Regions from separate parts of the Homo sapiens genome. Here region 2 is linked to region 1. A link means that fine-mapping ties the variant in region 1 to the expression of a gene that starts in the linked region. Tissue or cell type: tibial artery. Region 1 holds a variant in brackets; the other region holds the start of a gene. All regions are shown on one strand. Distances are between the middles of the regions.

Region 1 (8,105 bases):
CTCATGACAGGTGCTGCCAGCCCCTTTGGGTCAGCACTGGGCACCCACCAGAGCATGCCATTTTCCTCAGGGGCCCTGGAGAAGGGTTCTGAAGTGGTGGCTCTTGAGTGGTGAACCAGAGGGTGGGGCCCTGGGCTTTGGGATCAGCTAGGCTTGGGTGTCGCTTAGTAGCTTTGTGCAAATCATTTCATCATTCTGAGCTTCAGTTCCTTAAGCTGTAAAATGGTGCTTACCTTATGCAGTAGTTGAGATAATTTAGATGATGAGATGGCATAGAAATAGGTATATGATGATAATATATGTATCATATTTAAATCTTGCCCAACACATAGTAAAACATACTACTTTGAGCTGGGCCTATGGCTTAGCATGTCATTTAATGTGTAAGTTATGGGTATTGTAATTTGGGAGCCCCTATGGAGCCTCTGTTCTTTTATCCCCACTAATTCATGCATGGTGATGTTTTGCCTGCTCCAGGGCGATGCTGTGGCAGGTGACTGAGGGTTTGCTGACCTTGCAGGAGAGACAGTGAGTGCCTGGGCACCAAGCAGTGCCCTTTCTCTGCCCTGCCTGCCCCCAGTGCCTCCAGGTCCTTGGAATGACTCTCTGAGAATTAATAGAATGTGTTTTTATGTATGTGAAAGAAGACAACCCCCAGAGAATCCAGTTACGTGCTATAGAGTGATACCACATGCTCTTCCTAAGTCTAGGAAAAGAATTGTATCTGGAATGAAGTGTAAAAGTTAAGACACAAAGATTGTCCTTTGGCCCCAAGTACAATTCGAAAGCATTTTGACAAGAACGTCTTACAATATTAGTGGCTTGATTATTTATTTTGTGCTGTTCATATCTCACCCAATGCTAGGCTCTACAGCTAAGTCGTCTTTCTGTCTTCACTATGGAGTGACCTCCAGACATTGACCCCTCCTGTGGTTGTACTGTTTCAAGCTGTTTTGATAAGGCTGAACTAGGATGATCAGGGCATGGCAAAACAGCTATTAGCAGCACTTGTTATTAATGACATATGAACGTGGTAAAATATACGGGCTTCCGATGAGTCTATTAGTGTGTTTTTTTATGTTTAGGAATGTTTCTAAGTTGAAGAGCTGAGGAGTATATAAGAATGACTCCATACTTTTCCATGAAAATTCAACACCTGTCCTCAAAACAGCTGGGTCTAGCTCCAAATTGCCCACTGTAGTCTTGTGAAAATTTCTTTGAATTCTCCCTTTTTTTCTCAAAAATACTTGGATTTCACATTCTATCCCATAGTGCATTTTATTTGTTTTTATGTTAAAATGCTACTTTTCTTCGCAAATGTTAGAGGAGGGTTGACTTGCCTGGAAGAGGTGCCATGTTCATCTTGCAGCTCCCCTACCTGCTGTAGGCCCTGGGGGAGTCTCCCTCCCCACCCCACCCCCAGCGTGAGAAGCGGAGTCCTTTCTGCCACTGACAGAGGGATGTTTCTGGGAGTAAGCGGTATGCTTCATGGAGTTCACCCCTGAATTTTGAGGATTGACCCCAATTTCCTTAGTTATTTTGAAATTTCTAGAGATTGGTATATCTAACTCAGGATGAGATCATTTATGTTTAAACCATTCTTTTGAGCTAGAGTGGAATGAGTGACCCCATTTTTCTGAATTTCTTGCCTTTAGTTAAAACAAAAATCGGTGTTTAACTTGCCTTCAGATGATCTCTTCTGGGTGTTTTTCTGAGAAGACACTCTCAAAACCCAGCAGTAACCCTGGTCGATTTTGCACCTGTGCCTGAAATGCTCCCTTGCCGTGCCCTGGTGTCTAGTCCTGGTCAGTGCACTCAGGAGGCTTGCAAAACTCAACTCTAGTCCTAAATACTCCTCTTCCAGCACTTACTTCTTCAGTCACAAAGTTGCTTTGCCCACCCAGCTGCTGTCCTGGGTCACAGCTGGAAGCAGAAAAGTCTAAGCTTAGTATACTTTGGATGATGTTTTTTACACTTTTGCCACATGACAGACTCTAGAGCCCCTCAGCATCTTTTTGTGTGGTTTGGATCTGCCACAGGAATGGGGAATGTTAGTCTTTTAATGGTGAAATTACTACATCATTTCTTGGGCCCTCTGACTGAGTCGGTTGTCTATTCTCAGAAGAGGCTCACTTCTGGACCTCTCGGTTCAGAAATCTGCTCTCTCTTAGTGGAAAATTATTTCCCTTCCTTTCTTTGTTTAACCTTTCCCCCATTCTGGATAACATATTGATCCTAAGTAGCATAGTAACTCTAAGAAGTCACCCAAAGTCCCACAGAAACTTAAATTGCTGTAGAGGCTACTCATAACTAAATAGACCACTCTGTCTTGCCCTTTAAGATACTTATAGTAGACTTAAAAAATTTAGATGGTAATTGCTGAGAGACATGATGTGCTCTTTCCGAGTGTACATTTTCTTTCTTCTCATGGATGGTATTTGAGGTTCTGTAATGACATTAGTTTGACAGACATAGAGCCAACCATAAAAAAATTCATGGGTTACCCTTGCATTGAAGTAAGTCAGTGAAATGAGTGGCTGTTTGTCCAGATGTTATTTGTCCACAGTGTGTTCCAGTTTCTTGGAAGGAGAACCATCCTACACAAATCCTCCATGCTGCTCTGCTGGTTTGGGTCAGGATGTTTTGGGCATCTTCAAGACTTCCCTCTCCTGTTTGGATTGGTAACAGTATCTGTTTCCCATTCATCTGGCTTGCAAAACTGAACTCTAGTCTTAAATCCTCCTCTTCCAGCACTTATTTCTTCAGTCACAAAATTGCTTCAAGCCTGCTTTCCTGACCTCCTGATTCAAGGATTCTAATTTCTTCTAGTTAGCTTTGATTGGTGCCCTGACCTCTAATCTCTCAATATCCCCCTTTCATGCATCCAAGTGGCAGCTGCTACATAGGCATTCCCAAGTTCTCCACTTTGCTCCAGCTGTCCTTCCTGCCTTAGGAGCCTCTGGTCATGCTGAGTCCTTCTCACAATGATGACCTAGATCCTCCATCTCTCCCGACATGGTCCAGCCACAGCCCCCTCCTTACTGCTTTGCAGGCCCTTTGCTGTGCTTTTCCTTTGCTTGCTGTGCCTGTCTACCTGTTGCCAGATGTTGAGGGCCACCTTGTTTCCCAAAGCCAGCTCCAGTGATCCCTCTTTTGTGGTCCCTCCCAACACCTGCCTGCCAGGTGGGAAGTGATAGCTTTCCTGCTCAGCATCTGTGATGCGTTGTCTCTTCCTAGTGCTGGTGTCCTTTGCTTTGTGTTAGAACTTTCTGCTCTGTTGTAAATGTTGGATTTCCTTCCTGTTTCGACAGGGAAATGTCTTATAGCCTGGGGTCAGCTGGAACAGTGGAGGGAGTGTATCCCATAACCTTGTAGACCTTTACCTTTTGCTAAGGGCAAGTCACTTAACCTCCAGTTACCCATTTGTGAAATGGCCCATCATTCTTCCCCTGCAGGGTGATAGTGATGATGAAAAATGAGGTGTAACAGATACTAAAGGGTCTAGCAGAGTGTCTGGCATATGGACAACTCAGTAAATGCCAGATCCTTCTCTAGGTTTCAATCCAGATAGGGTCTAGAAGAAGTTCTACACAAAATTGGTGCTAAATAAATATTGATGGAATTGCAAACCCTTTCAGAACCTGTTTGGCATTTTGTAGCTGCAGATTAAATGGTGTAAAAGCCTGTAGCCTTGTGTGTTGGAGCTGTGACTCTGGCTCTGTTACACTGATTTCTGTCTTTAGTCTAGGG[C/T]GGAGAATATTCCAGATCTCTTACAAGTTAACCCCTCCGCCCTCTACTAACCAAAGCAAAAGAAATTCTTGTCAAGGAGTTGGCAGAAACCTCAACATTAGCTTTGCTATAACTTGAAAGACACAACTTTCTAGTTTTTGCATAATATATGCGCACAGCACACACTGTACCTAGCTGCTTTACTTTGGTCACCAGTTGCTTGTTGGCTACTAGCCTAGTATGCGAACACCTCCAGCTTTTTTAGTTCTTGTTGGTAATTAATTTCCTAGAGGCTCTTATTACTTGTGAACAAAACTTTTGAATACATTATGAATGAGGTTTTACCTGATGTCATTATGTCAGTAGTGTTATGAAAAAAATAACCATAAAACTTTCTTCATTGTGGCAGTGAAGTATAATTCTGTTAAAAAGATCAAATGTCTAATGCTCTTAAGAAAAATCCTGAGTCTCCCTTTACAAGTACGTATGGCATGTTGGGAACAAAGTTTTAATACGGTGCTTTTTTCCCCTCTCAAAGGTCTTTTATAACCTGTTTTAGGCAGATGAGCTTGTTTGATTAAGAGTGGTAATTAATTCACAGTGGTCATTAGCATGTAAATATAATGTGACCTTCACATACTGTAAGAAGAGATTTTATTTTAGCAGTTCATGGGCATTGACTTTTGACAGAGGGAAAGAAAGGGAAATTGTATCAGTTAGTTTGGTGTATTATTTCAAAACATGGAAATTAATTTTGTGTCAGGTTGTAATTGTAATTGAAGTGTTAAAGACTTCGAGAGTGGTAAATTGCATTTAATCTCTCAGTAGTCCTTAAGTGAGTATTCAACAGTTATCTTCCTAAATAATTGGCATTGCTAATGAGAAGAGTTAAATCAGTTTCTATCTTTACCCTGTTGGAGTGTGGAATTAACAAACTGGGAAAATGAAAACTTTCAACTTTCCCAGAAGAGAGTAAATATGCAAAATGCCATTTAAAAAAATATAACTCACTTACACCAAGGAGAGCGGAAATGTAAGTCTGGAACATTTTGTGGAGAGGAGCAGGTATGAGGCAAAGGTACAGACCTAGGAATTAAGAGCACGTGAACCTTGGAACTCCCTACACACTCTGTTTCCTTCTCTGTCAAATGAAGCTGCTTAGCTAGAGAAGATCTAAGGCCCATTTTAATGCTAAGATTTTTATTATTTCTGTTTCTCTGATTTTTTTCATCTTCTATTTAAATCTGTGTGGTAGATGGCTATCTTCAGTCATACTCCCAATATAATTTTAATCCCCCCAAAAGTATATTTATCATATCAGTTAGCTCTTGCTATTAGCTCAGCACTGTGTTGGTGAGATTGATCCATGTTGTTGTTTGCATGACTGGTTTGTTCATTTTTATTGCTGCATAGTAATCCATTGTGTGAATATACTATAATTTATCCATTTTACTGTCACTGGAAATTTGCATAGTTTCCAGACTTTGGCTACTCCAAAGAGCCAGCAAGTTGTGGTCTTGTTTTCTGGCATACCTGTGTGCAGGAATTTAAAACTTTCTCTTTCTCCTTTTCTTTGAAATATAACTATAACAGATCCTATTATGTGTTGGGTTTAGTAAACTTTGTGATGAGTGTTCTCCCTGAAGGAGAGGGCATTTCTTACTTAGATACAAGAAATTATCCTTAGGCTTATCTGTGTAGACATACTACCAGTGACTAAAGGATCACTGAAAACATGCATACAGTTTCTAGTTTTTAATTTGATCTTCATTTTAAGTGCCTTCTGTGCATGTTGGGGTTTTTGGTGTTTTTCACACATCTGATTTTTTTTCAGACGTGTGTTTTTATATCAGACTCCAGTGAATTCTTTTGGTAGTGGACAGGTCGTAAAGTATAAATAAATCCAGCAGAACATACTTGCCATTCCTCTTGTAGGCACCCTCTGCCTGTCCTTTATGTGTGCTGGGCTTGCCCCATAGCAGCTGTGGTTGCTGGCATGTCCCGCTGTGCAGTAGCTCGCTGCTGCTGAACCCCCTATGCAACAAGATCCTGGGTGGGGAAGGGCAGCTCAGGTATGATGTGGCCAGGACTCGAAGGGAGCCAATCAAGTGTGAATTTCAAAACTGAAGACATTTGATTAGTGTGACTCTACTTTGTGGATCATCCAATGCAACCATCTCTTTTTACAGGTGGAGACCTGGGTTTAGAGAGGTCAAGTGACTTGTGCAAGTAGAGACCATGTCTTTTGCTGCCGTTTCCGTTGCAGCTTATATGAAATTATTATTTATAGTTGAGAGGGTAAGGCAGTATGAAAAGAAGACAGTGTGCTCACAATTTATTATAGTTTTTGGCAATAAGAGCTTCTAAATTAGGTCCAGAACAACATGTGAGTTTGCCTTCTCCTTTTTGCAAATGACATACAGCATCCTTTCCTCTTTGGATTATGTTTTCAGTGTTTTTATATGGGTCATAGGTTTATTTTGGTCCTAATCACATTATGCAGTTAGGAGTTTTGCTGCTCTGCCTGAAGAATTCTACATTTTACTCTATTTGTTTTGACTACAAATAAGACAAAATGTGTCTGTCAGGTGAAGGAACATATTCACTCTATGGTGTTGGTAGTGACCTATAATTATCTCAAATCTTTTGATTTCAACTTTGGGTGCATGCTTGCTTCTGGACAGCTGTTGCAGCCTTGATCCGCCTCTTGTCTCTTTTCTTCCCATGGCTGAAGGCCTGGTGGTGTCCTTCTGCCTTTGGTACCATCAGTCTCTGCCCACCCAGCTTAATTGGACAGAAGCTCTAGGGGGCAGGTGATCAATCATACCACGACTCATTTGCCTGTGCAGTCATTCTTAGTAGCTTTGCCTCGTATCATTTTGAGAGCAGAAAGTTTTTTTGGGGCTGCTTATTTAAGATTTTAGGTAGGAGGTGAGGTAATTGCATGAGGCAGAATTAGGTATTGATAAACTTGGTCCTGAGTTTTATTGGAAAGGTGTAGGTTGACTGGAGTGGAGGGAGATGTGGGTTTCACTGGAACTATCCAGTGATGGGATTGTTCTGACTATGATGCTGTAGATTGAAGATATTGCTGCTCCGTCACCATGTGGCACCTCCTCACTGTTACTATTTCATTGAAGATCAGTGGATACGGATGAAAGAGCTAATAATATTTCAGTGGCTGGTGGATGTTCTGAAGCCAAGGATGGCGAGAGGTTGCTGCTAATTCAGAGATTACCAAACCTTCGCCGTTCCTCCCACTTTGTGCCTTGGAGTCCCCACTTTCTGCACCTGTGCCTTTCATCCTTTAGCCTCTTTGTCCAGTCTTTACTACTCCTTAGGCTCACCCTTGTCCCTTTGTCCTCTTCCTTTTCCTTCATACCCTGAACTGCTGTTAGTAGAAAATCACAGTAAAGGTTCACACATTTGTTGTACTTGGAATAAAATGGGATGTTTCATGTTTTTGCTTGAAAAATAACTGAGTTAAATCCTTATAGATACAAACATAAAGATATCCCAAACAAAATTGTTTCTACTTTTAAGTTTGCTTGGGGGCCATGGTGGTTTACCCCCACTGCATTTGCCGAGCAGTGGAGAAAAATGAGGTGGTGATTGCTGTTTTGCAATGAACCTGAATAATTATTCCACACCCCCAATATTTTAATTTTGTACCCCTTTTGTAAACAAAAAAATGACATTGGCCAGGAGAATGAGGACTCTACTTACATTCTAATTTGTTTTTTAAAAGTCAAACACACCGCTAATGTTATAAGAGAATTGGTGCTTTGTGGCTTACCACATTACCCACTTGGAAAAACAAACATGTTAATTCTAAGGAACATACTGATTTGATGGTACAAAAGTTTCCCAGACCTGTTGGGTAAGTCTGTTTGTCTCTTTCTTTTTTTAAATGAAATAATTATGGGAGACTCTGTAGCCATGTCCCAGCTCTGCCACTTACTTAAATATCCCTGGACATATTACTTGAACTATTTAAGCCTGAATTTTCTCATAAGAAAAATGGGGTTAATGATTTTACTTAGCCATAAGATTGTTGTGTGGAACGAGAGTAAAGCACTGACGTCAGACTGAGCACATAGTAAATGCTCATTAAATATTAGCTAGCAGCAGTTTTTTTTTTTTTGAGATTGAGTCTCACTCTGTCGCCAGGCTAGAGTACAGTGGCATGATTTCGGCTCACTGCAACCTCCGCCTCCTGGGTTCAAGCGATTCTCCTGTCTCAGCCTCCTGAGTAGTTGGGACTACAGGCATGCGTCACCACGTCCCGCTAGTTTTTGTATTTTTAGTAGAGTCGGGGTTTCACCATGTTGGTCAGGCCGGTGTTGAACTCCTGACCTTGTGATCTGCCTGCTTCG
Region 2 (8,105 bases), 120 kb before region 1:
AATCATCTTATTTTGTTTAGAACAAATCCATTCCATCTGAGGAAGACCTAGAATAATATTTCCTAGATGACAATAAATATACTATTTTAAAATTAAAATTGGTCTAATCCCTAAACAAATTTTTTTTAAAAGAGTTCTGTGGCACCTATAAATAAATAAAAAATCTCCAGAGCCCCAAAGACCAATCTTAGCTAACATATTTTAGTGAAACGTGGGCGGGGGGCGGGCGGCGCAACGGTCTGTGATAACAGATTTTTAAAACACTTTTTTGTTTAAAAGTCTTTCTACTGTATCTTGATATTATGGAACAATTTCATGAAAACATATTTATCCATAACCTTAAAAAAATTCCAAGTGACCAGAGACTTAAATGACACATACTTAATAAAGCAATTTTGATGATACACAATAAAGTACTTTTAAAAGATTTTTAATCACAGTATAACTCCAAACACATCTTAAATCAGCAAGCAAGCAGCCAAAAGAAAAAACATTCTGCCTCCTATACTATTCACTCTATATTAACGATTTGATTTGGATTAAGGATCAATTCAACTTAGGAAAATAATTACTGGTATTATATTCTTCTAGACAGTATGTTGCTTCAGAGACATTTAAAGAACCTTTTTAGTATGTTTTATATGCTGTAGAAGAAAAATTAATGTCAAGCATGTTCTGCATTGGGTATGATGATTACCATTTCCTGAATCTATCGGAGCAATTTCCTCTTTTCTTTTTATTTTTTTTCTTTCTTTTCTTTTTTTTTTTTTTTTTGAGACGGAGTCTTGCTCTGTCGCCCAGGCTGGAGTATAGCAGCACCATCTTGCTCACAGGAACTTCTACCTCTCGAATTTAAGAGATTCTCCTGCCTCAGCCTCCCAAGTAGCTGGGATTAGAGGCATGTGCCAATGCACCCAGCTAATTTTTGCATTTTTAAAAATAGAGACGGGGTTTCCCTATGTTGGTGAAGCTGGTCTTGAACTCTTGATCTCACGTGATCCGCCTGCCTTGGCCTCCCAAAGTGCTGGGGTTACAGGTGTGAGCCACCGTGCCCAGCCTCTTTTTTTCTTAAAAAAAAAAAAAAAAAAAAAAAAGAGGTAAGGTCTTGTTATGTTGACCAGGCTGGTCTCGATCTCCTGGCCTCATGCAATCCTCCCATCTTGGCCTCTCAAAGTGCTAGGATTGCAAGCATGAGCCATCATGCTCAGCCCAATTTCCTCTTTTAAATAGGACATTTAAATCTGTATCTGTCATGCTATCCTGAATAGTTAGAAATGAAATGAGGTCCTATGCTTTGAGATAACTAAAAAGCTAAAATATATTAATTTTTGCAAAATGTCAAATATTTGCTTTTCAAATAAATTAAAAATAACTTATGAACTATATGCTGTACTACAACTCAGATAATATTTCCTCCTGTAATTTTTGGTTAATATACTCTCCTAAAACTTATCAGAAAAGAGGTAGAGAGATTTCTAGAAACCTAAAGATATCAAATTACAAAAGAAGCCTAAGTATCTTCTTTTCATCTCTGGTTCTGAATGATGGACAATTTTGAGAAAATGTGGTTCCTACCTACCTTGCTCTCAGGAAAGGATACAAACATTTTTGAAAGAGAGGAAATCATGAACTGTTGGTGTATTGTATCAAGGGAGCCCTTTAAAATATTTTATTATGGCACAAAATATTCTCTTATAAATAAAGTATAACAAAATATTTGGTGGAATTTCTTTTATTTTTTCAACATGGACACAGTTGAGTTTGCTCAGCTATGAAAGCTGAGCAAAGCCACCCCAGATACCTACAAGTGCTCAACAGGAATTCAGGAGGTTAAGGCTCAGTGCAATGGGAGGAGAGGGGCAATCTCTCAGCATCCAGCTCTTTAGCACCAAGCAATGTCTAATTTGGTAATTACAAATCTGACTTGTGAAGAAAATGGTTTTTCGTTCCAGATATATTTATTACAAGTGACTTGGAAGCTATCTCTTTGACTTACCTCCCCAAATGTTCCACTCTTTATTCATACAAAGTGTATTTATTTTGCTACTTAAGATCTGCTGGGCAGAAGTAAGAGGCTGTAAGGCTTGAGAAATTGCTTAGATGGAATGTTTTATCTCCCACCCTGTTTTCCTCTGCTGGGTAGAGACGAAGCCCCAAAATGTAATCTTGTTAAAAAAAGTTAGATTTTGTTTTTTTAGTTTTTTTTTGCTGGTCTACAATGAACTATGATCACTCTGAATAAAGACAGCGACTACTAGTAGCTGACTCTAAATTTAGAAATAACTTTTTTTAGGTCTAGGGAGGCATCTCAATTTCAGAAAAGTTAGTAAAGGTTACTGGTAAAATTGCTTTTACTTCTACTGGGGAAATTTTTGAAAAATATAATGCTAGGACGTAGAATGGTTAGTTGATTTCTCTAAAAAAACAGTAAATGGTTTTTAGAGCCCTAAGAGTGGTTAGAAAAACCAGGAGCTGTAAAATTAAGAAGTGTCCAAAGCCAATTGGTTTGAAGCTAGAACTAAAGCTGAGTTCTAAGGCTGATGTTCTTTCTCACTGGGGGAAAGAATTTAATTGACCTTGGAAAGCCACAGAATAGTGCTATCTGGCTTATTAATGCCCAAATATTCAGACACCTGCACCTCACCCTTGTGAATGCCTTAGGATTTAGCTGGAACTTTGAAAAGTAACTGAACCAAACCAAGGCTATAACTCTACAGGATCTCAGCATCCCAGAATTTTGCTGACACTCTAATAGAATAGATAACTTTTCAAATATCTCAGGAACTAGTAAGATAGGTAGTGAACAAATAAGGCTATTTTCATAAAGCAGATTTTTATTGAGTACTTATTAAATACTATGTGTCAGGCTCCTTCAGGCACAGAGATACAGATGAGGTTCTTGCTCTCATGGAATGTAGCTTCCATTACTGAATGGCATCCCGCTGATGGGTAGTGGAAAAGTGTGGGGATACTTTCAAGAGGATGCATTAAGTAATGGAAAATCTTGAAATCCAGGTGTCAGAAAGATTTTGAGATGCTTGATAGGAAGCTATTGGGCCCTATGAACGGAGGACTAAGTGGAAGGGGAAAATCACTTAAGTTGCAACCATTTTTTCCTTTCCTTCTTGATGAGCCTCTTATGTAAACCTGGCATTTGGACCATAAAAATATGGTTATTCTTTGTTAGTAAACCAAGGAACAATTTAGGTGGCATTAATTTAGTGAGCTTATTACCAGGCTCATACAGAAATCAATAAACATGTACTTTTTAATCAACCCCTGAGGTGGCTTGTTGCCACCACTAGTTATTCTGTGAGACTGGTGAATGTTTAAAAAGGCGTGGTGAACAAAAATACTTTACCTGTACAATGAGAAATTGTGCCCTGCAATTTTTAGGACTTTCTCAAGTTGCCAAGTAATTGGTTCTCTCACTGTGCATTGATAATGTATACTTTGTTAGCTTTACAGTTTATATTCTGCAATAAGTTACAAAGTTGTACCCTAAGGTTATCTTTGCTGCTATGATACATACAGTCCGGTTCATCAGCCTGGTTAAGGACAGGGTATTGTTCTCACAGAATGTCCAGCCTTATCCAATGTTCCAACGGACTTATTCAAAATAATTTCAATTTACAAAATCAATTCAGTCTCCGGTTTATGGTGACAGCAGTTTCTTTCTCTGAGAAACACTAAAAAGTTGCCAGCAGTTCCATTTGAGTAACTGAATAGATTTGCTACCTATTTCCTGGTCCATTCTGTATTGGGATGGAAATAATGTCGTCTTTCCTTTTTTTTTTCTTTTTTGAGACAGAGTCCCGCTCTGTCATCCAGGCTGGAGTGCAGTGGTAGGATCACCGCTCATGCAGCCCCCGAGCTCCCGGGCTCAAGCGATCCTCCCACCATTCTCCCCAGTAACTGGGACTACAGGCATGCGCCCCCACACCCGGCTGATTTTTAATTTTTTTTGTAGAGATAAGGTCTCGCTATATTGCCCAGGCCGATCTTAAACTCCTTGGGCTTGAGATCTTCCTGCTTTGGCCTCCCAAAGTACTAGGAGTAAAGGGGTCATGGCTAATTCTTGTTTTTTTAAATTACTAATGTGTCCCTTACAGATAAATAAAAAAGTAAAATTACTCACAATTCCACCAATCACTGAGAGACTTATTGGTGTTTATCTATCCAGTCTTTTCTGCCTTTCTCCATAAATCACAGTTTTTAAAAACGGGACCATACGGTACATAGTGTTTTGTCTCCTCACCCCCTTGAATAACCTTCACATTGTTCCATGGTATTTACAGTATTTACTAATAATGACTGTAAATGTAAGAGGTATATAACTGACTTTATTCAGGGCATGGCAAGCAGGAGTGAATTATTTTCTTCTTATCAACACAGCACGCCCCTACCGCCACTCATCCCTATAGTCGTTCTCTAAATACCTAAGTGACACCTGACCAGCAAGGTTTCAGGGTCCTTGTGCTGAAAGGAGCAGGCTCGCCTGGGGTCACGGCCCTCCGCTTCGCAGCAAGACCCCACCGCCCACCACGGCCCTCCAGTTAGCCACAGCTCGCTTCCCCCAGGACCGGGCCAGAGGTCCCGAGAGGGCACTCTGCGGACCTAGGGGCCCCAGCCTACAAGACGCTGTGTCCTGCAGTCATCCCCTTTACACAGCAGAGCCCCAATTCTGGGAAGCCGGGGTCACCCCGAGCCTCCCTTCCCCGTGACAGCTCGGCCGGTGCATCACCTTCCCTCGCGGACCCTTTCAGCATCACCACGCGTGGGAGGAAACCCAGGACGGGCGCCTGAGCCTCGGTGGCGGCCCACCCCGGTGCCGCGCGGCGCCGCGGCCGGACCGGCGCCGCGCCGTCCCCGAATGATGACGCGCTTCCTGCCCTCCCAGCGCTCTCGGGCAGTGCGCTCGCGCTCGCCCTCGGCTCTTGTTCCGCGCCCGGAGCCAGCGGCGGCGGCAGCGGCTGAGGCGGCTGCGGGAGCGGAGTGGTCGCCCAGCGCGCGGGGGGACGCGGGCTGCACTCCCGGGCAGGCGCTCTGCAATGAGACAGTAAATGCATCCCCCGGTAAGGCGCACGGCTCACTCGGGTTTTCCTCTTCCTCCAGCTGCATGCACGTTGCATGAATTTCTCGTGTCTTTTCCCTCCCCTCTCCAGAAGGAAAATGTGGGGTTTTTTTTCCTCCCTTTTGCTTCTCGTGAGTGATGCCAATGCAGGAAAAACCCGTAAAGCTCCCAGATTTGATGGTCTAGGAGGGCTTCTTGCAGGAAAATAAAAATAAAATGAAATTAATGCACCTGTCTATTGCACATGTATGTTTCACTGCACCGGACCCGGGCGCAGCGGTTTGCAAACAGCCTCGCAGTCGGCGCCAGAGAGCGGATTCCTGGCCGTGGGCAGCCGGTCCCCTCCGGGGCTCTCGCTGGGTTTCCGGTAACTGGGCTTTGAAAAGCGGCCCCGCCTGCATAGAGTGTCCCCTCGACCCCAGCCGGGCCCCCGCGCCAGAAGAGTTGGCGCTGGAGGAGCAGCTTCATTCCAGCACTGGCCGCCGGGACTCCAGCGCCACTTTGCAAACAAGTCTCCCGCCGAGGCTCTGGGCTAAGACAGCCCGCCAGTGCGGAGTTCCTTCTCCGGTGCCGGACACTCAGACCTGCCGATCCCACGACTGCCCTTTACTTGGCAATCTCGCCACGGGCGAACTGCTGGCCGCTGAGCGACGGGGGCAGTGCCGGGCCGAGAGCGGGGCCAGGCTTTGCATCCAGTGCGGCTGGCCTCACACAGACTCAGCGGCTCCCTCTCCTTCCTCGGTCCCACGAGCTGAAATTTTGCGCCCATTGGAAGCTGGAGGGACCTGGAGACGAGTATTTCGGGATCCCTGAGGGGACCGAGGAACGACTTTCGAGGGCGCCATATTTTCAGTGGGTCTTGACTGCGGAGGGGAGGGGGCGAGCAGTTTCTGGGTCCCGGGGAGAGCCCCGCGCCCCAGTCGGAGAGGCCTGATCGGTTGTCGCCGGGAAAGTTTGCGCGCCGAGGCAGGCGCGGAGGCGGCCGCACAAGGCGCGCACGACTGCTGTCCCCGCAAGGGCGCGCGGACTACAGCGCGTCGCCACGCCAGCCGGCGGGGCTTGGGAACGAGAGCCGCCGTCACGGACAGCGTGCTGGGCTTGCCGCCTTCCTCTGTCCCGCCTGGACCCGGCCTTGGGGCTCCGAGGCTCAGGGAACACGCCCCTCTTCCCCGCAGCTACCGCTGCCCGGGTGCTCAGCCGGAGCCGTGCGCTGGGCGGCGTCCCGGGGCTGGGCGCCGAGTGTAGAGCGTTCTCCCGGTGCCCGGGCTCGCCTGGGTGCTCCGAGGGGCGCAGTAGCTCACTTCCTGGGGGAGAGGAGGCGCCTTGGTTCGTGGATCAGGACCAGGGCCTGGCCTGTGGTCGCCCCGAGGCCGCCGAACAGCCTGAGCTTCCAGTCGCCTCTTTGGCTTTAGCGGCGACAGCAGTAGCGCCCGCGGCTGCGTGTTCTGCTCTCGCAGCTCGTAGAGGCGAGGAAAGGAGGGCGTTTCCAGAAGTTGGGGCTTCAGGTGACGCGTGGGGAAACTTGGATTCTTGCTGTCCTTGAAGAGCTGGGACAACTTAGGCCAGAATTCCTGTGTCTCATAGTGAAAACTTCTGGTTCTTTCCAGAAGATGAGAGAGGAATGAACTGAAGTGTTGGCGTTGTCAAAGACATAATTAAAGACGGTTGGGTAGGGATGATGTCTTGGAGAAGTGGTCCCCAAAATACACGTAAATTGCCCTGGTGCTGTAAGTACCACTTACTTTTCCATTAATAATACCTGGGTGTGTTAAGCTGTGGCATTGTAAGGTTGCACGCTGACCTCCCTTCTCCAGAGCTTGGAGGCAGCGACCTCTCTGGAGTGAGGGGGAAGCGGGAGTGGGGAATCTTTACTTTTGAAGTAGACTGTGACCTCTGCTTTGTGATGGGACAGGGCACGGGCGTGTTTGCCAACCTACAGGCAGCCAATTGCAGGAACGTGTTCTCCTTGGAGTGTTACCGAAATGATGTCATAGTATTGAGGTTTTGTCGGCACTTCCGGTCTTCTTCACTGAAGAGGCTAGAAGGGACCACAGAAACCTCTGGGGTTGGGGGTTAGGTGTGCAGAGGGAGGGGAGAGGCTTTCCTGTGGGAGATGTGCCTGGAGATGTTAGGTGTTAGGCAGCTCTTTCCCTGATTCATTTCATGAAGCGCCTGCAAAAGTGACTCCGATATGAATGTCAGCCAAGATTTTACCTACCTTGATTGCTTATTTGGGACCTCTATGCAAAATCAGAGGATGGCGGTGGGTGTGACAAGTGGTCTTGAGAGAAGAGGGATGCCTACACGAATGCCTTTTTTTTTTCATTGAGCACTAGAATAGTGGAAAACACCCAGAGCCCAAGATATATTTTTCCAAAATTAGCATAGCTAATTTAGAAGAGAAATCAGTTGCAGAAAGCCTCAATCCGTTTTAAGTTTCCAGTCTTAGAGGGAGCACCTTAATCACAGAAACAGGTCTCTTCATATTGGGGAAGCCACTGGTTTCTCTCTGCCTTTGTAACCATTTAAGTTATCAGGGAGATTCCAAAGAGTATTAGAGGGTCTCTCTTTTTGGCATTGATGTGGAGCTTCTACCTCGAAAGAGAAAGCGAACTTTTAACAACTTGACCCTGTTGAATGAGTTACTAGGGATATTCTGTACAGGCATAGGCTATATATGTGTTTTGAACTCATCTACTGCTGACTCATTCAGGTTTTTCCAAACACTGTTCCCTAGAGTATTTTTAAGTGAAATTAGGGTTTAGGAAGAGGTGAGTATGTTATTTTCTAGTCAATATCTGTCTTTTCTCTCTCAAAATTAACCTGATTTCCCCTCCTTCACCCCTCACTCCCAGAACATCGTTAGTTCTCTAGAGCAGTAAAGGACGATTACAGGTGGTGAATGATATAAATTTTTACCAACTATGCTCAGAAAAAAACTATGCATCTAAATAGGTATTTATGCATTTTAGCGTTATGCTTTGTAACTATGTATATGCCACATATATTTTATACATGTTAAACCTTACAT

Which allele goes with the higher level. Alleles are on the strand shown, and positions count from the first base shown. SD is a standard deviation of normalised expression in the study named.
For the expression in tibial artery of the gene that starts at base 4,940 in region 2, allele T in region 1 goes with a higher level than allele C (small effect, 0.28 SD a copy in GTEx).

What was found. PIP is the estimated chance that this variant, and not a neighbour inherited with it, causes the effect.
Region 2: TLN2 starts here. The variant in region 1 is fine-mapped to the expression of TLN2 in tibial artery (GTEx, PIP above 0.99). The same link has a PIP of 0.9 or more in subcutaneous fat.

What each region holds. Positions count from the first base shown.
Region 1 is chr15:62,510,185-62,518,289 of GRCh38, forward strand. All of the region lies in intron 1 of TLN2 (talin 2), which reads left to right. Among named protein-coding and RNA genes, the nearest start is that of TLN2, 120 kb to the left of the region's middle. The variant C/T (reference allele first, on the strand shown) is at 3,751.
Region 2 is chr15:62,385,611-62,393,715 of GRCh38, forward strand. It overlaps TLN2 (talin 2), which reads left to right and starts at 4,940. Exons shown (of 59, transcript NM_015059.3): 1 at 4,940-5,075. RefSeq lists enhancers at 4,360-4,429, 5,348-5,962 and silencers at 4,596-4,792, 4,840-5,169.